Regions from separate parts of the Homo sapiens genome. Here region 1 is linked to region 2. The links come from fine-mapping of genetic effects on gene expression. A gene starts in region 2. The other region holds a variant in brackets. All regions are shown on one strand. Distances are between the middles of the regions. Region 1 overlaps ASB11 (ankyrin repeat and SOCS box containing 11). Region 2 holds the start of ASB11 (ankyrin repeat and SOCS box containing 11).

Region 1 (10,266 bases), 30 kb after region 2:
ACACAAAAATGTTTTTATGCTACAAAAAGAGATCTAGGTTATTTAATTAATTTATTTATTTATTTATTTTGAGACAGAGTCTCGCTTTGTCGGCCAGGCTGGAGTGCAGTGGCGCTATCTCGGCTCACTGTAACCTCCTCCTCCCCGGTTCAAGTGATTCTCCTGCCTCAGCTTCCCGAGTAGCTGGGATTATGGGTGTGTGCCACCATGCCCAGCTAATTTTTGTATTTTTAGTAGAGATGGGGTTTCACCATGTTGGCCAGGCTGGTCTCGAACTCCTGACCTCAGGGAATCCGCCGGTCTCAGCCTCCCAAAAAGCTGAGATTACAGGCGTGAGCCACCACACCCGGCCAACCTAGGTTATTTCTAAAGCCCATTTCAGATAAGCAATCCTATAATTCTGTTAATATTTAATATGTCCCTTACTTGAGTGAGGGTATCTTGTGTTCCACCAGGTCACAGAGAGTGCATGGAGATCCTGCTGGCAAATAATGTTAACATTGACCATGAGGTGCCTCAGCTCGGAACTCCCCTATATGTGGCCTGCACCTACCAGAGGGTAGACTGTGTGAAGAAACTTCTAGAATTAGGTAATTTCCAAAATTATTTTCATGAAGAAACCTGTTAACTTTGTTGATTTTCTACAGCTTCAAAGATGAAGTTCTTGTCATGGTTGAAAAATATTCGGTTAGCATTTTATGTTTGAATGCTAAAAACAAAACTTCTCTAGAGAAATGAGTGTCTGTATTTCTCAGTCCTGCTTCCTTTGATGTTAACTCCATTTACCTGGTATTGTTCTCCCTGGTTGTCACAAGATAGCTGCCAGCAATACCTGGGCTTACAGCCCTCCTTATCCATACGCAGCAAGAAAGAGCATTGGCTCTTTTTAAGTCACATGCCCATCTTTGAACCCCTCATGGGGGCCAAGGGAATACAATATATTGATTAGTTTAGGCCTAGATTTCAGCCTACTCTGCATTTATTAGGCTTCACTGGAAACACGAGAACTGAAACTAACAAGAGGGTGGTTTACCTTTGGGAAATCTAGGTATGCTTGCCAGGAAGATGCTGGACGGTAAAAACAGACATTTGCTACAGGCTAGTTTATATCTATCCTGCTACAGTATCTAGTCATTTTAAAAGCAATTCTAAAAGGCATATACAGAAACCAAGAGTCCGTGGAAAAATGAAATATCTTTTTTTTTTTTGAGATGAAGTTTCGCTCTTATTGCCCAGGTTGGAGTGCAATGGCGTGACCTCAGCTCACTGCAACCTCCACCTCCAGGGTTTAAGCGATTCTCCTGCCCTAGCCGCCGGAGTAGCTGGGATTACAGACGCACACCACTACACCCGGCTAATTTATTGTATTTTTAGTAGAGACAGGATTTTACCATGTTGGCCAGGCTGGTCTCGAACTCCTGACCTCAGGTGATCCACCTTCCTCAGTCTCCCAAAGTGCTGGGATTACAGGTGTGAGCCACTGTGCCCGGCCGGAAAAATGAAATATCTTGAAACTATTCTTTGGTTAAAGATTCAACAAACTTAGCCCCTGACATAAAGGTGGAGATTTAGTAAAAACCTTTAGTTGTGAATTTTTATCTTGAGGAAGTTTTTGTCTTTTTTATTTCCCATCATTTACTATTCTCTATAGTAAGTTCAGAAATCATTTTTTGAGCCCCAAATAATATAAATACTAAATAAACTTAGCTTTATCTTTTGTCCCAAAACATAATAACTATGTAACAGGAGCCTCAAATACTTTATTTTGTATGCCACACAGTTTATACGGGAAAGCAAGTATTTAAAATGACTAAAACTATCTAAATTCACTTTTCTCACCAAAGAATTTCAAGTAGTCTTAGTAGGCATTGCTGAGGTTCTAGGCTTGAGTTGCATATTTTCAAACATTTGTCAAGTATGTCATGGTACTTAAAATGTCTTTATATGCAATGACTATATTTGAAGCTCATTGTGCTTTACATTACATTTAGTGTTGAATTGTGGCCATCTGTTTTGTTAAGGAGCCAGTGTCGACCATGGCCAGTGGCTGGACACCCCACTCCATGCTGCAGCGAGGCAGTCCAATGTGGAGGTCATCCACCTGCTAACCGACTATGGAGCTAACCTGAAGCGTAGAAATGCTCAGGGCAAAAGTGCGCTTGATCTGGCGGCTCCAAAAAGCAGCGTGGAGCAGGCACTCTTGCTCCGTGAAGGTAACCAAGGGCTGGGTATCCATTCCTCTTCCATAAGCACATTCTCTCCCCTTCCTGTCTCATCTGTAGCATTTTTTCCTTTTTCTTTTCTCTTTTTAATTGAAGGTGGCATTGTGGGAGGTGATAGGCCCTGCCGTCACTGACCTGTCTTCTGGGATTTTATATGCTGTGTATATTCACTAACAACCAAAGGGCATTTACCTATAACCAGAGTGTTGCTTTGTATTTTATATAACAAGAAAATAACCAGAAAACCGGCTGGGCGTGGTGGCTCACGCCTGTAATCCCAGCACTTTGGGAGGCTGAGGCGGGTGGATCACAAGGTCAGGAGTTTGAGACCAGCCTGGCCAGCATGGTGAAATCCTGTCTCTACTAAAAATACAGAAATTAGCCAGATGTGGTGGCTGGCGCCTGTAGTTCCAGCTACTTGGGAGGCTGAGGCAGGAGAATCGCTTGAACCTGGGAGGCGGAGGTTGCGATGAGCAGAGATCACACCACTGCATTCCAGCCTGGGTGACAGAGCGAGACTCCGTCTCAAAAAAAAGAAAACCAGAAAACCTTGTTTATACCCCGAAAATCTTGAATTTCCATTTCTGTCCTGGCATAAGCGTATGATTGAGCAAACCAAAACTCTGCTTTGTAATATTGGGAGACAATCTGATGGCAAATTCAAAAGACTTGAGTCAGAGTCTGTAGGGGAGGACACAGAGTATTTCAGAAATCCGACTAAATGGTGAGGTTGTTTGCCTGTTCTCCAGATCAGGGAGTAGGTGGGTCTGCATTCTTCATTGCTTCATTCCCGTTTCCACCATGAGCATTAAGAGCAACTACTGATGCCAGAAGAGGTAAGGCGAGCATCTGAAATTCAGAAGAGAACCAATTCAGAAGAGAACCTCTTATGTCTATACAGTAAGAAAATATTTTCGGAGCCTATATTGATTATTTGTGTGCCTGAAGAATATTAAAGATAATTATAATTATTCAGCTCTACGTATGCCAGGCACTGGGCTAAATTTGAAACATAGATCAAGCTCACTGAATTTTTAAAACTTTAGAGCAGTGGGAACTTTATATGGTAGTAGCTGGTTGCTATGCCAGGTACAAATGGGAAAAGAAAAGCATTGACAAGGTCACACAGCTAGCTACATAATAGAATTAGGTAGGATTCTGAGCCATCTGACCCCAGAGTGTGCACTTTTTTTTTTTTTTTTTTTTTTGAGATGGAGTCTCACTCTGTCTCCAGGCTGGAGTGCAGTGGTGCGATCTCGGCTCACTGCAACCTCTGCCTCCCGGGTTCAAGCGATTTTTCTGCCTCAGCCTCCTGAGTAGCTGGGACTACAGGCGTGCACCACCACACCCAGCTAATTTTTGTATTTTTAGTAGAGACGGGGTTTCACCATGTTAGCCAGGATGGTCTCGATCTCTTGACATTGTGATCCGCCCGCCTCAGCCTTCCAAAGTGCTGGGATTACAGGTGTGAGCCACTGCACCTGGCCATCAGAATGTGCACTCTTAATGTCATAAGGCCCCAACCCTGAATCTTTTGAAACATTCAGTGAGGAGGGTCTTATTTCACTCACCAGTTCCATTTTGTGAAACCACTACATCATATATACCTTCCAAGTAGAATGCTTGGTTTTAACCATTTTATGAATAGTCTTTCTAAATCAGTGCTTCTTAAGATTTAACATGCATATCAGTTCACTTGAGGATTTCCTTAAAATACAGATTCTCATTCAGGAGGTCTAGGATGGGACCTGTGACTCTGCATGTCTAGCAGGCTCCCACGTGATGTTGATGGTGCTGGTCTGAGGACCACACTTTGCGTACCACTGGTCTAGATTATTATTATTGTTATTATTATTATTATTATTTTAGACGGAGTTTTGCTCTTGTTGCCCAGGCTGGAGTGCAGTGGCGTGATCTCGGCTCACTGCAACCTCCGCCTCCCGGGTTCAAGCAATTCTCCTGCTTCAGCCTCCTGAGTAGCTGCGATTACAGGCGCGTGCCACCACGCCCAGCTAATTTTTTGTATTTTTAGTAGAGATGGGGTTTCATCATGTTGGCTAGGCTGGTCTCGAACTCCTGACCTCAGGTGATCCACCCGCCTCAGCCTCCCAAAGTGCAGGGATTTCAGGCGTGAGCCACCGCGCCTGGCCAGGATTATTTTCAATAGTCTAGATCATTAATCATTGTTCTTTTATTTGAATCTTCACCAGAAGAATTATGATCTTCCTCAGCAGATCCGAGCTTGGAAATACCAGCTACTTTCCAACTGTTAGCAGAGACTATAGTTTATAGAAGTTTTCACATTTCCTATTTTCTTCCATCAAAAATGTTTCTAGGACTAGGATTTGTAGACCTGGATATCCTGGACAGGGCCTAGCTCCTCTGTCCTTTGTCTTCATAAATATAGCCACTTGCTCTAGAAAGATTAATACTGGCTGGGCGCGGTGGCTCACACCTGTAATCCCAGCACTTTGGGAGGCCCAGGCGGGTAGACCATGAGGTCAGGAGTTCAAGACCAGCCTGGCTAAGATGGTGAAACCCCGTCTCTACTAAAAATACAAAAATTAGCTGGGTTTGGTGGCACCCGCCTGTAATCCCACCTACCCGGGAGGCTGAGGCAGAGAACTGCCTAAACCCGGGAGGCAGAGGTTGGAGTGAGCTGAGATTGAACCACTGCATTTCAGCCTGGGCGACCGAGTGAGATTCTGTCAAAAAAAAAAAAAAAAAAAAAGAAAGATTAAATACCAACTACATCAGAGTTCACTCTCCTGTCAGTGTCTCTGGGCACTGGACAATTTGTCTACATTACCATTTTGCAGAGGAGGTTAAGTAGGACAACAGGTAAAGAAGTTTTCTATTCTTGCTTCCCAAGATTTTAACTAAGATCGATTGTTTGGTCCTCCAGGTAGCTTTCTATCTCATGGATGCTCCTTGGCAATGTGAAGCCAAATGTTAACCTGGCTATTCGCATATGCAGTCCATCATTTTTCATGGGGTGTGAGATGCTGTTACAGTGGATTTTTTTGAAAAGGAAAACTTTGTGTAGACCAGTAATTAGGTTTTCTTGAAGAGATCTTTACTGATAACAGTCAGGTTAGGAAATAATGACTGTGCAACTAGTATTGCAGCCAAAAGCTCATTCATCCTATTCAACCATATTCTGGACTCTCATCAGCTGATTTTCCTTAAGGATTCAGAGCCATTCAAAGCCATGGGCATGATGATTCTGTGAGACTCCTTGAGAGTCCATGAGACTCAGTTTCAGGGAACAATAGGGTCTGACTTGAGTCCTTCTTGCAGATCTCTATTGAGCTGGAATCCTTGCAAGAATAAAGGGCCTCTTCAGATTTAAGTTGAGACCCAGCCAGCACCACCTCATGGGCAGCTAGAGCCGGTAGGTCCAGGAGTACTTTGAGGGCTGAATATCTGGCCCCTGGCACATCTCCTAACACTGCCTCTGTCACCACGCAGGTGGAACTTCCCGCTGACACCCTTTCCGTATTGTCCCTCTGTTCTGTGGCTGTGTCTTGGAGTCCTGCGTGTTCAGTCCTTCCATTTGCATTTTCTCCTTGGCCAGTGTATTACTTTCTTTCTTTCTTTCTTTTTTTTTTTTTTTTTTTGAGGCGGAGTCTCGCTCTGTCGCCCAGGCTGGAGTGCAGTGGCCCGATCTCGGCTCACTGCAAGCTCCGCCTCCCGGGTTCACGCCATTCTCCTGCCTCAGCCTCCCGAGTAGCTGGGACTATAGGCACCCGCCACCACACCCGGCTAATTTTTTGTATTTTTAGTGGACACGGGGTTTCACCGTGTTAGCCAGGATGGTCTCCATCTCCTGACCTCGTGATCCGCCCACCTTGGCCTCCCAAAGTGCTGGGATTACAGGCGTGAGCCACCGTGCCTGGCCCCGTGTATCACTTTCATTGGCACATTCAATACATGAATGAGATGCATTCCCTTTAGACCCCACACCTCATTCCTAACTTGCCTCTGGTTAGCTTCATTCTTCAACATTGGTAATCCAAGTACCATTGGAAGATTAACTTAAAGAAATGCATCCCTTCCAGAGGGGCAAATCAGGATCTGCTGTCTGTATTTAGTGTCCGCTACCTCATTCTATAGTTCCTATACAGATCCAGCTTCTCTTCTGCTTTTAGAAAATTTCCGCCTCTTCCAGTTCTCTGATTTCCCCCTTCCACCCCACCTCCCACCACTATGAAGTTAACACCATTTTTATTTCTCTCTCAGGCCCACCTGCTCTTTCCCAGCTCTGCCGCCTGTGTGTCCGGAAGTGTCTCGGTCGAGCATGTCATCAAGCCATCCACAAGCTACATCTGCCAGAGCCACTCGAACGATTCCTCCTATACCAATAGTC[C/G]TAAGTGTTCCTGGGAAGATACTTGGAATGACACAGATTGTTGTCTGCTGTACCTAGAGTACCTAATGTAGAAGCTCAACAGCTTAGACTCCTAGTATCTTTAAATGAGCTCAGTCGAAGTAAATCCCCCATGAGCTAGAACACTTGAGGAGTGGAAACTCCTGGTTAGTTTAATGTTCTCATTAACCAAGGGGCAAGTAGAAACCATTTAGCTTTTAGCTCTTGTTGTTAAGAAACTTAAAAGAACTGTGAAGTAGAGTGAAAACAATAGGCTGTTTTTTGATGATTCGGGATCTTCTTGTACCTAAAAGTCAACATTCTGAATATTGTATAGACACATATAAATTCAGGTGGATAAGATTATAACAAATGTTAGGTATTCCAAGATATGTTCTTGATTTAGTTCCTTCCTTCAGCCCTTCCCCACTTTTTTTCTTTCTTTCCTTGAATAAATCTGGTATAATTTTGATTTTTTGTATATATATACGTATATATATATACATACATATACGTATATATATATACGTATATATATACACACACACACATGCACTCATATATTTAATGTTTTCAAAGTCCTTAATATATATAGTTCATATATGTTTTCAAAGTCCTTAATATATGTATAAAGCTTATATATATATGTTTTCAAAGTTCTTTATATATAAAGTTATATATATTTATATAGACTTTATATATATATACATATATAAAGTTAAGGACTTCAGAAACATTGTAGTTAACTGAGGCTTCCAGTTACTGCGGTCCTGGTTGATAAGAGAGACTTTGGAAGAGATCAGTGCACCCAGAGGTTGGCATCTATTGCTTATTGCTTCTGATATTAAATGCTGTTATTTGAAGTAAGCAGTTCTAGGATTGAGAACACTGGGTGTCCCCAACAACCTGAACCCACAGGCATTGTCTGAGGCATGTTGCAACCCAAGCACTGGCTTATTTTCAAAGTCAAGATGCTCAGGGTTTTTGAAATAATTACATACTGATGCCAGCCACCAAAGTGGGCTCAATGCTGGGTCAATATTTTTTTCTGTGGATAGGGGCCCAAAATAAGCACAAAGGTATATAAAAAGAGGCTTCTCCTTTTCTGTCTTCTCCTTCTTCTCATTTCTCTCTCCTTCTGTCACCCCTCCTCTTCCTCTATTCTTTCTCTTTTTTGTGAATTTAGAACATGGGAACTGGATAGACTTTTAATTATTGTAAGTATTACTGTCATGGTTCAGTATTCAGTTCTAAAATGAAAATTCCCTCTCAGATCATCCTAAGACTCATTTCACACATGTTTTTTTTTCCCCCAATTTTTCTAGACCTTTGGCTCTCAACTGGAGACAATTTTGCCCCACTCCCACTGAGACATTTGTCAATGTCTGCAGACATGTTTAGTTGCAACAACTGGGGGAGAATTGCTACTATCATCTAGACGGTGGAGATCAGGGATGCAGCTAATCACCCTACAGTGCACAGGAGCCAGCAACAAAGAATTATCAGATCTGGCCGGGCATGGTGGCTCACGCCTGTAATCCCAGCATTTTGGGAGGCCGAGGCAGGCAGATCGCACTGTCAGGAGTTCGAGAACCGCCTGGCCACTATGGTGAAACCCTGTCTCTACTAAAAATACAAAAGTTAGCCAGGCGTGGTGGCAGGTGCCTATAGTCCCAGCTACTTGGGAGGCTGAGGCAGGAGAATCACTTGAACCCGGGAGGCGGAGATTGCAGTAAGCCAAGATCACGCCACTGCACTCCAGCCTGGGTGACAGAGCGAGACTCCGTCTCAAAACAAAAAAAAAAAAAAGAAAGAAAGAAAGAAAGAAAAACAAACAAAAAAAAGAATTATCAGGTACAAAATGTCAATAGTGCCAAGAGTGAGAAACCCTTCTCTAAGCCTGTGCTATTCAATACAGTAGCTGCTAGCTACATATGGCTAATGAGCACAGGAATTGTGGATAGGCTGAATTAAGATGTGTTGTAAGTGTAAAATACATATTACATTTTAGTGATTGAGTAAAAAAAGAATATGAAACATTATGAACTTTGTTTTGTTTTCTTTTTTAGACGGAGTTTCACTTTTGTCATCCAGGCTCGAGTGCAATGGTATGACCTTGGCTCATTGCAACCTCTAAGCCTGTGCTATTCAATACGGTAGCTACTAGCCACATATGGCTAATGAGCACAGGAATTGTGGCTAGGCTGAATTAAGATGTGTTGCACGTGTAAAATACATATTACATTTTAATGACTGAGTAAAAAAAAGAATATGAAATACATGAACTTTTTTCTTTTCTTTTCTTTTTTGAGACGAAGTTTTGCTTTTGTCACCCAGGCTTGAGTGCAATGGCACGATCTCGGCTCACTGCAACCTCTGCCTCCCAGGTTCAAGCGATTCTCCTGCCTCAGCCTCTGGAGTAGCTGGGATTGCAGGCATCTGCCACTATGCCCGGCTAATTTTCGGTATTTTTAGTAGAGATGGGGTTTTACCATGTTGGCCAGGCTGGTCTCAAACTCCTGACCTCAACTGGTCCACCTGCCTCTTCTTTTTTTGTTTTATTTTTTATTTTTTTGTTTTGAAATATTAATAGCTTTTGATGTTGTATTTTTAATTTTTTGAAAACTTCCATACTGTTTTCCATAGTGGTTGTGGTAATTTACATTCCCACCAATAGTGTATAAGAATTCCCTTTTCTCCACATCTGCACCAGCATTTGTTATTTTCTATTTTTTGGATAGCCATTCTAACTGGGGTAAGATGATACCTCATTGTGGTTTTGATTTGCATTTTCCTGATGATTAGTGATGTCGAGCATTCTTTCATATACCTGTTGGCCATTTGTATGTCTTTTTTTTGGAGAAATGTCTATTCAGATCCTTTGCCCATTTTAAAATCAGATTATTTGTTTTGTTGTTGTCAAGTATGATTCAGCAATCCCATTACTGGATATTTATCAGAAAGAAAGGAAATCAATGTATGGAAGAGGTAGTTGCACCTCCATGTTTATTGTAGCTCTATTCAGAAAAGCAAGATATGAAATCAACTTAAATGTCTGTCAACAGATCAATGGATAAAGAAAATGTGGTATATATACAAAATGAAATACTATTCAGCCTTAAAAAAGAAGGAAATTCTGTCATTTGCAGCAACATGGATGAGCCTAGAGGACATTATGTTAAGTAAGTCACGCACAGAAAGATAAACACCATATGTTCTTGCTTACATGTGGAAGCTAAAAAAATTGAGCTCACAGAAACAGAGAGTAGAATTATGCTTATTAGAGGCTGGGAAGGGTAGTGAGGAGGGGACAATAGGGCAATGTTGGTTAATGGATACAAAATTATAATTGGATAGAAGAAATAATTTCTAGTGTTTCATAGCACTGTAGGGTAAATGTGGTTAACAATAATTTATTATGTATTTTCGAAAACCTAGAAGAGAAGATTTTGAATGTTCATAGCAGAAATGATAAATGATTGAGGTGATGGATATGCTAATCACCCTGATTTGATTACTTCTAGGTATTAAAATATCACTCTGTACCCCATAAATATATACAGTTATTACATACCAAATAAAATTAAACGAAAAAACTTTTTTGCTGATCACACAATGAAATAATCTTTTCAATATATTAGGTTAAATAGAATATATTATTAAAATTAATTTCACTGG
Region 2 (10,785 bases):
TACATAGATTCTGACAGTGTTGTGATTCTGTATAGGATTTTTAAAAATGACAACATTCACAAAATTTATTACTTTTTAAAAAATAACATGCCTATTAACTGGTTGCACTGATATAAAAGAAATATATTTGTGTTTTGTTTGTACTAAAATGCAAAAGCAAGAGTGCAATTTTTAAAATCTAGAAGTTAGGGGTTTTGTTGGAGAAAAATGGACTGATCTTTAAACTATTCAGTCTTACTGGGATTTTTATGCATAGAAACTCACATATAAACATGAAATAAACAGTGCCAGTATTCATAGGAAAGTGAGAAACTGTAATATTTGGCCATTATTCTATTCAACAGGTTTTAGAGGCATGCCACCATTTTTTCCTTATATTTTTGCTTAATTTTTTTAAATTGTCATTTAATTCTTAAACTGTCATTTATTTGAGATGGAAATAAGATCTAAAGTTAGTTGCCTTTGCCTGTAAAACATGTGATTTGCAAATTATTATTTTTCTTTTTTTTAACAAATGGAAGTAAATTTGTTTCACGTAAATCTTAATTTTCAACCTTTCTGGATACCTTAATTGTAACTGTCAGTTTGCACTGGTCGGTATATGGAAACACATTGCTCTACCCTGCTACTTAGTTGATTTTAAAGTGAATTTACAGTGATGAGAAATTTGTGAAAAATATATTGTATTTCTTTTGATGTTTCAAAAGGTTGCCTATGAAAAACTGATTTGTTAAAACATGCTACATGTCCAAAAATAAAGACCAGAATGACATTTTGATAATTTTCTGAGTTTGTCTTATTTTATGAACAGACTATTATTTACTAGTGGAACAGGCTATCCCTGCCCCCGACACATTCTTTTTCAGTGCAATTTGGATGTGTTGCTTGGTCTATTAGTAAAACAAGAAATACCCTTTGGGCGATGAATTACTCTGTCATTTTTTGTTTCTAGAATATCTTCTCTCTCTCACTCATGGAATAGCGAGTTCAATTGTGCCTTTGTTTCCTTACCCAAATAAGCCCTTGTTTTTCATTGCCCTAGCATTATCACGTGAGACAAGGAAAATATCTACAAACTATACTGTGTATGTGAGCTACATAATTATGCTTTCTACTTTGCCCAACACAAATTTGTAAACTTTCTTAAAACATTATGAGACTTGTGATTTTCTTTCTTTCTTTCTTTCTTTTTTTTTTAGCTCATCAGCTATTAGGGTATTTTCATTTATTTATTTATATATTTTTGAGACGGAGTTTCGCTCTTGTTGCCCAGGCTGGAGTGCAGTGGCACGATCTTGGCTCACTGCAACCTCCGCCTCCCGGGTTCAAATGATTCTCCCGCCTCAACCTCCTGAGTAGCTGGGATTACGGGCGCCCACCACCACACTGGCTAACTTTAGTATTTTTTAGTAGAGATGGGGTTTCACCATTTTGGCCGGGCTGATCTCGAACTCCTGATCTCATGATCTGCTGTTAGTGTATTTTATGTGTGGCCCAAGACAAATCTTCCAGCGTGGCCCAGGGAAGCCAAAAGATTGGACATCCCTGATTTAGTTTCTCCCACTCCTTTTGTGGGAAGCAGTGGAAAGCAGTCACCTATGTTTATGTTTTGATTTATCTTATGCCAAAACTTATTTTTGGCAAAGTCAGGGTAGTATAGGTCTGTGTTTACTTTTGTGAAGTAATTTTAAAGCCTCTTTATCCATCTCTGCATTCCCAAATGGATGTGGCTAGATGTTGAATTGTATCATCCTGTGGCTGGATTTTTTAATATAAAATTATGAAAAAGTTCTATGTAGAATTTGATTTGTAGCCTTTAGTACTTGGGGGAACTGATTTTTATCCTTTATCATTTCTATTTGGGTATGGCTCAGTGGTTCTCAACTAGGGCTTGGGGGGACAGTTTTGTTTCCCAGGGGACATCTGGCAATGTCTGGTTGTTACTACTAGGTGGGGTGGGGCATTGGCATCAAGTGAGTAGAGGTCAGGGTTGCTGCTAAGCATTCCGCGATGCTCTGGGCCATCCCCCACAACACATGTATCTGTCCCAAAATGTCAATAGTGCTGAGGCTGAGAAACCTTGGTGCTGTTGATGATTTCATCTGTGAAAGATAGCATGAATCAACTGTCCTTATGTATCAGTAGCCTTTTATGCCCATCACAAATGTAATGTTCAAATATAGTAAAGATGGTCTTGCCGGGCATGGTGGCTCACGCCTGTAATCCCAGCACTTTGGGAGGCCGAGGTGGGCGGATCACGAGGTCAGGATATCGAGACCATCCCGGCTAACACGGTGAAACCCCGTGTCTACTAAAAATACAAAAAATTAGCTGGGCGTGGTGGCGAGCACCTGTAGTCCCAGCTACTTGGGAGGCTGAGGCAGGAGAATGGCGTGAACCCGGGAGGCGGAGCTTGCAGTGAGCCGAGATTGCGCCACTGCACTCCAGCCTAGGAGTCAGAGTGAGACTCCGTCTCAAAAAAAAAAAAAAAAAAAAAAGATGGCCTCTCAGAAATAGTATAGACACCCATTTGAACCTTAATAAAGTTGAGCTTTTCATGGCCAACTTTTTTGGCGTGTAAAACATAGGACAGCCATGTTTTAAATGAAAAGACCAAAACAAGATTGAATAATGTTATAGAACAATGTACATCACTGGTCTGACATGACTAAATGATTGCCTACTTAGAGTATAATTGAAGAAAGATAAATGAAAAGGACTAAAAGAGTTGTATTCATGTATTTTCATACACTGGCATTCTACCAGGTAATATAAGCTCAGTAAAGTAAATCTTATGTTAATGTCTGTTCCTTGAGAGTTAAGACGACTCAAGGTCTTTATAGTGCTCTGATACACTGAAATCGATGAGCTGTATGTTGTGACTCAAGATTGTATTCTTACATGTCAGCTTTTTAATGTAGTGAAACAGTTCTTAACCAGGCAGTCATTCTAATTTGCCTGCATGCTAGGAGAAATTCCCATATTTTTGCATAAATCATTTGTTAAGATTTATTAGGCCACTTGTATAACTATATTTTGGCTTGTCTTTTCAATTGATTTTTAAAATTTACAAAATCGAACATAGCCAAGAATGAAGGCAGAGACCTAGAGTGATGAGGAAAACTAAAAATAAACCCATTTCACTTGTGTTGGCCAGCTGATAAGAGAAAATTGCCCAACTAGAGAAGGTTGATTCATGAAATATTTGGGTACTTCATCCAGAACCTAGGGCATCTCTTTTGTCCATTTCACTATGACTCTTCCATGATCAAGGATAGCCCACATTTTTCAGAAATGGGCACCACCTTTACCAATGCTTGAAATGCAAGTGAATGATCAGGAGGGAACCTTGCCATGGGACCTTGTCCCAGATGGAACTACCATGGCGAGTAGTCTGATGCTTCTAGTGTGACACTTACTTGGAGAGGCATCCAAGATAGGCCTTTTATTAAATACAGGCTTGGCCGGGTGCAGTGGCTCACACCTGTAATCCTAGCACTTTGGGAGGCCAAAGTGGGTGGATCACCTGAGGTCAGGGGTTCGAGACCAGCCTGGCCAACATGGCGAAACCTCGTCTCTACTAAAAATACGAAAATTATCCAGGCGTGGTGACGCATGCCTGTAATCCCAGCTTCTTGGGAGGCTGAGGCAGGAGAATCGCTTGAACCCAGGAGGCAGAGGTTGCAGTGAGCCGCGATCGCACCATTGCACTCCAGCCTGGGCAACAGAGTAAGACTCCATCTTAAAACTAAATACATACATACGTGCATACATGCATACATACATACATACAGCTTTAGGGTAAATTGTCTTTTTTTTTTTTTTTTTTGAGACAGAATCTTGCTCTTGTCACCCAGGCTGGAGTGCAGTGGCGCGATCTCGGCTCACTGCAACCTCCGCCTCCCAGGTTCAAGCAATTCTCCTGCCTCAGCCTCCTGAGTAGCTGGGATTACAGGCACCTGCCACCACGCCCAGCTAATTTTTGTACTTTTAGTAGAGACGGGGGTTTCGCCATGTTGGCCAGGCTGGTCGCAAACTCCTGACCTCAGGTGATCCGCCTGCTTCAGCCTCCCAAAGTGCTGGGATTACAGGAGTCAACCACCGCGCCCGGCCAGGTAAATGGTCTTTTTTAACTGGTCATATTTTAGATTTGGATTTAATCCTCTATAAACTTCAGAATTAAGAGAAAATGAAATGCTCCAGGGAGTAGTATTTCCCACTTAGAACATACAGCATATTTGCACTTCTTTTGTATGTCAAATAACTTGCTTTGTTTCTGTGGAAGCCAAGAAGTTTCTATCTTTCCAACCCTGCTTTCTAACATAAAATAGGAAAAATAGGGGTTTAGGAATATAAAATGTTTGGATATGAATCTTATCTGTTAGATAGTACTGAGTTATGTAGTTCTAGAACTATTGGATGTTTCTGGTTAGAAGGAAGTTTCTTTAGTTTATTTAACACTGCTGTGGAGTCAGCACATGCAGTCGCCAAATCAGTTAGATTAGAACCTACAGAGATCTCGGTAACAGGAGCACTGAGTGCTAGAAGGTTTAAAATAGATGTCATATGATACCAATTATAACTCAGTGAAATTTTACAGTCCTAGGACCCTATACAGAGCATAAGCCAAAATGGAAGATGGTCCTGTTTTCTATGGCTTTAAAAACATTTTTATTACAATGTTTGCTACGTTTTTTTTCTTTAAGCTTTTAATTAAAGTTTTTTTGGCTCTCCTAACCCATTTCTATATCGTCAAAGGAAATAGAAAAGAAGCGGCTAGGATAGCAGAAGAGATCTATGGTGGAATTTCAGGTAAAAGTACATGAATTTGTTCCTAATATTTAAAGAAAATCCCTCCTAGATAATTCATATGACTAGTATTTCTGGAAGGCAGATTATATTTATACTTTGATTTTAAGTGGGTAGTTTGAAAAATTGTCACTTAAAGTAGCAAATGCTGTTGGCTGCATCAATTTGTGGAGGATTTTCAGCTTTATTTTTTGCAAGTTCGTAGATCTTGTAGCAGTTGTTATTTAAGAAGTAAATAGGTAGTGGCTTACTAAGAGTATTTTGAGAAACTTCATTTCTACTAGCCAAAGTAATTACTTGTATATAATTATTTTCTTTAATATTTTAAAGCAAACTTTAACAATGAAGGGCATTCTAACCAGACTAAATTCTCTCAGGAAATAGAATGACTAATAAATTATAATTAAAGCAGCAAACGTGGCAAGCTATGTGTATTTTTTTTGCTGTCATTTGCAACTGGAATTGATTAACCACTTGTCACTGTCAGGAAAAGCTCTTCACTAAACCCATTTTATATGGTAGCATGCAAAGCACTCCAAACAAAGTTTATTCTAACATGAAATGCCAAGATTTGGGCAAAACATTTTAAATTCTCATGCTTTGTAGAGAATAGTGTCCATTTCTTTCAAGAAATGATTTACTTTAATTGTGGTGAGATGCTACAAAAGTAAATGAGTCAGATATCCCTGTCACTCCTGGGATTGTCACTTAATAGAGGAGTATTTATTCATAAACAGAGTTCAGAATTTCCCCGTGTATTTTTAGTGTTTGCAGGGGTTCCAGGATTACATCATTCTTTATCTAGTATCCATTTCAATTTGCATCCAGGATTCTCTTTCAAAATAGTCTTATGTGATTCCAATACACTAGACAACTCAGAAGACACTAGACAACAGCAGTCTTATCTAAAGAAATAAGACCTCCAAGGACGAAGCATCAGAATGCTTCAATTAACTGGGGAAAATGAGAAGAATTGTGAAGTTTCAGAACGTATCAGAAGGTCCGGACCATGGAAAGAGATTTCTTTTGGGGATTATATTTGTCACACATTTCAGGGAGGTATGTTACTTTGACTAGTTACAAAAAAAAAAAAAAAAAGTAATGCTTCTGATAAGTTTCAAGTTAAGCATGATCTGAAAAGTTATCTTCTAATTTAATTTGTCAATTTGGGCAAGGGCTTTCTAAAATTTTCAATAATAGTTTTGGTGTTCTCATAGATAAATCATTCTTCTGGTCTAAATTAGATGAAGTCCAACAAAGTCAATATTGGCAAGAACATGTTACAAATGTTTTCTCCTGTTGCACCTGCGCATTATTTCTGTCTTTGTGGTCTTTAATTAAGTGCACTCTTTTTTTTTTTTTTTTTTTTTGAGATGGAGTCTCGCTCTGTAGCCTAGGCTGGAGTGCAGTGGCACCATCTCGGCTCACTGCAACCTCCGCCTCCCAGGTCCCGGTTGAAGCAATTCTCCTGTCTTAGCCTCCTGAGTAGCTGGGATTACAGGCACACGCCACCATGCCCAGCTAATTTTTTTGTATTTTTAGTAGAGACAGGGTTTCACCATGTTGGCCAGGCTGGTCTTGAACTCCTGACCTCATGATCCGCCCGCCTCGGCCTCGCAAAGTGCTGGGATTACAGGCGTGAGCCACCGCGCCCGGCCTCAAGTGCACTCTTAAAAAAGGTATAAAACCTCCTTATAGTCAAAACCCATGTAAGCATGGTTTGAATTTAATCTGGAGCTGGAATACAAATCTCTTAAATACAGTTCGTTCATTCTGTAGTGCAAATATCTTTACTTGTTCAATCTCTTAAAATAGGTTAATTTGCAAGTAGCATAGTATTCTAAGGTCAAAAACATTTTTCAATTATTGTTAAAGAGGCAGGGAATGGTGCATGTTAATTTCCCAGTTTTATTTCTTTCATATATATATGTATATGTGTGTGTGTGTGTGTATACATATACACGAATCCCCCCACCCCCAAATTTACCAAGATTTGGTAAATAAGACTTTCTGTTTTTTTGTTTGTTTTGAGATGGATTCTTGCTCTGTCACCCAGGCTGGAGTTCAGTGGCACGATCTTAGCTCAGTGCAACCTCCTCCTCTGGGGTTCAAGCAATTCTCGTGCCTCAGCCTCCTGAGTAGCTGGGATTATAGGCGCACGCCACCACGCCCGGCTAATTTTTGTATTTTTAGTAGAGATGGGGTTTCGCTATGTTGGCCAGGCTGGTCTCGAACTCCTGACCTCAAGTGATCTGCCCACCTTGGCCTCCCAAAGTGCTGGGATTATAGGTGTGAGCACCTGTGCCTGGCCGCTAAATAAGTCTTTCTATAAGAATGTAGGCAGTAACATGCCTGGACCAGTATTTTTCACATGGTTCTGTGTTTTTCTTTTGATACCACTGTTAACAGTCAGATACTATATTATTACAAATCTTCCCCCGCCCCACAAAATACTTAAAAAATAACAACTCTTTATTCAAAACCCAGTCCTTTAAATATTAATGCAACTAGGCCAATACACCTAAACAATAAATCCTCCTCAACCCCTCAGTCTCTCTAATTCCTAAATTATCCCATAACAATATATTTAGGTGTATTAAAAATCAAGAACAAAATTTTGTGGAAGTGTTAAACTCAAACCAGAAATCAAACTCAAACCAGAAATCACCTTTGCTTTTGGTCACTTTTGCACTGGTCAGACAAATGTTTGTTGGGAAAATATATGACATTTAATCAGTAAATTAGCTAATTGACTTACAAAAGTCCCAGCCCAAGGTTAAGTTTCTTGAGTCTGCTAGCATATGCTATTCCTGTAAACTATTGTCAGCAATGTCAAAAGCAAGGAAGGGCAGGAAAAACCTAGCCAGCACACAGGTTAGACTTTTGTAGGTCCAGAGCACTCTTTTTTTTTTTTTTTTTTGGAAGCTGCATTTAACACCACATGCCTCATTAAATATCATTCTTTGTGCTGTAAAACCTTTTGGAAAGTTGTTTTTTTTTTTTTTTTTTTGTGCAGTGGGCGGGTGGGGGTGGATTTCATAGTCTGGAATACATTATTTTATATGTCTTTGTGGCTTAAACTATTACATTTGCTGATCACTCATCATAGTTGAATTAAGCCATGGTTGACTGTTATTAGTTTTGGTTTTTAAGCTTCTTTGTTTATTTTGTCTATTATATGTATATTTTTTTTTCTTTTTTAAAGTTTAATACATTGTCCTTGGCCTTTGGTGTTATGCCTAGAGCACCAGATGGATCACTGGATCCCACCTTCAGTCCATAGATATTTCTGCAGGCACTTTCTCAGGAGAGATGTATTGTATGATTTTTCAAGCTTTGCTAATTTGTATTAAGCTATGTTTAGTACTGTGACTTGGTCATCAAGAAAGAAAATATAGTGTAGATACAGATTGATCATCTGTTATTCATAACCCTTCAGCCAGCCATGTTTCAGAATTCAATAGCTTTTGAATGTTAGAAAGATCATACAATGTGCATACTGTCTATTGCACAGCACTTCTGGTGGGGCCTGGAGCTGCCTCCCACAGTCAAACATTTTGATCTTTCTATAGTGAACATATAGGTATTCACACTAGATGGAAATATAAAACAAATAATAAATTGCTTAACCTAAGTCCTGGCCATGCTTTGCTGCTAAACAAGTTTGCATCAAATTTGGGGTAAAGCTTGGTTTTCAGAATTGGAGGAACTTTACAAGTGCAGATAAGACGTTGTAGAACTGTAGTGCCCTCTTTCAAAAAAAAAAAGGGCTATTTTAAGCTGTGTCTAAAAGATCAGTCCTATTCTAAGTTTTATGCTTAAAATCACTTGTTGATGGACTGACCATGATTTGACAGCTATGCCTCTGCCTAACTCAGCATTCTGAATCCTTTTTCCTGTCTTTTCCATTCCAATAGGATCGCCTTAGTTTCATTCTTGCCCAAACCTCGACCTAGCCTTCTGCTCTTATTTAGTTTTGCTGGTTGTCTCCACAAACATTGGCCTAACCATCCTCTAAGTTGCATATCAGGTGCCTGCTGGCTTTTCCTAGGTTGGGACAACCAGTCCTTGGCAGAGGCTCTACCTTCCACCAGTCTCCTTTAGCTCAGCTCTCCCGCCCTTAAGAGTTCAAAGGAGCCTTCTTTCTAATACACTGCAACATAGTTAATTGTGTCTAACACAGCTCACTGTGTCTCATCTCCTCTCTAGGACTGGACATTCTGGAGAATATTTATTTTAACTCAGTTTTATTACAATATTTTAGATATCTCAGGAAATACATTCTATTTTCCCAGTTACCTTTGTTTCACATAAAATACCATTAATTCTGCTAGGCTCTTGCCTGTATTTTGGTTCAAAATTAAAATTCCTTATGAATTTTCTTTTCCTTAATAAATGCTACAGAAGATTTGTTTCATATGATTTTATTTTTTATTTTTTGAGTTGGAGTTTCGCTCTTATTGCCCAAGCTGGAGTGCAGTGATGTGATCTCGGCTCACTGCAACCTCTGCCTCCTGGGTTCAAGTGATTCTCCTGCCTCAGCCTGCTGAGTAGCTGGGAGTACAGGCGCCCGCCACCACACTGGCTAATTTTTGTATTTTTAGTAGAGACAGGGTTTCACCATGTTGGCCAGGCTGGTCTCGAACTCCTGACCTTAGGTTATCCACCTGCCTTGGCCTCCCAAAGTGCTGGGATTACAGGCATAAGCCACCGCGCCCGGCTGTTGGGTCATCTTTTTAAATAAAAAAACAGTAATCTGAAATACTTGTTGAAATTAGAGTAAAAATTACAAAAACAGTTTAATCGTTTTTTATCTCAAATGGTTGGAACTTAGACAGCTGTACTCCATCTGAACCAATGTTATTGAAATATATACGGTTTTAGAAGTTGTTGTGAAGTTGTCATTCAAACAGTCTGAGATACAAATCACATTCTGAGAAAAATTCAAAGGGGGAAATGAAAAAGCACTTGAACATTTTCCGTACACCTCATCAGGAATAAGCAAACATATTTGTAGAGTAAACTATCTTCATAATGTGTTTGCAGCCCTGTGACACGGGCGATCTGCCAAAAAACTAAAAATAGATTGCCTTAGAAGAGAATGATTGAGTCCTACTTAAGCATTCATTTATTTGGAGAGCTCAGTTGCATACTTCCTGAAGGGAATGGAAAAACTCCCAAGCTGCCAAGTAACTTTTATCCTCAATTTCTCACAATTAGCTCCAGTTTGCAAAATGAGAATGGTAAGAGTGAGAGACTCTGTTGGGAACAAGGATAGAAAAGCAGGAGACCCCACTGTGGCAGTTTCTGGAAAAGGGTTCTGTGTGAAAACCCTTGAAGGTCCTTTGAAGCAAGTTCTGGGAAATGATGGAACTAGAAAGGCTACTTTCTTGAGAGTTACTTCGTTTCCAGTTGGGAAACAAAAAGGACTTCTACTTTTTTTTTTTTTTTTTTTTTTTTGAGACGGAGTCTTGCTCTGTCGCCCAGGCTGGAGTGCAGTGGCGCGATCTCGGCTCACTGCGAGCTCCGTCTCTCGGGTTCACACCATTCTCCTGCCTCAGCCTCCCAGGTAGCTGGGACTACAGGCGCCCGCCACCACGCCTGGCTAATTTTTTTGTACATTTAGTAGAGATGGGGTTTCACCATGTTAGCCAGGATGGTCTCGATCTCCTGACCTCGTGATCCACCCGCCTCAGTCTCCCAAAGTGCTGGGATTACAGGCGTGAGCCACTGCACCCAGCCCTGGATCTCTACTTTTAGGGTGGTACAATTGGTTTATTTCACACCATTTATAGCAGTGGTCCCCAACCTTCTTGGCACCAGGGACTGGTTTCATGGAAGACAATTTCTCCATGGACCAGGGTGTGGGGGGATGGTTTTGGGATGATTCTTGTGCATTACATTTATTGTGCACTTTATTTGTATTATTATTACATTGTAATATATAATCAAATAATTATACAACTCACCATAATG

What was found.
Region 1: its variant is fine-mapped to the expression of ASB11 in skeletal muscle (GTEx, PIP above 0.99). The same link has a PIP of 0.9 or more in atrial appendage.

What each region holds. Positions count from the first base shown.
Region 1 is chrX:15,279,828-15,290,093 of GRCh38, reverse strand. ASB11 (ankyrin repeat and SOCS box containing 11) reads left to right here. Exons shown (of 7, transcript NM_080873.3): 5 at 456-590; 6 at 2,022-2,213; 7 at 6,465-8,397. The coding sequence ends at 6,589. Among named protein-coding and RNA genes, the nearest start is that of ASB9, 15 kb to the right of the region's middle. The variant C/G (reference allele first, on the strand shown) is at 6,592.
Region 2 is chrX:15,309,452-15,320,236 of GRCh38, reverse strand. It overlaps ASB11 (ankyrin repeat and SOCS box containing 11), which reads left to right and starts at 4,597. Exons shown (of 7, transcript NM_080873.3): 1 at 4,597-4,812. The coding sequence starts at 4,632. It overlaps PIGA (phosphatidylinositol glycan anchor biosynthesis class A), which reads left to right. Exons shown (of 6, transcript NM_002641.4): 6 at 1-781.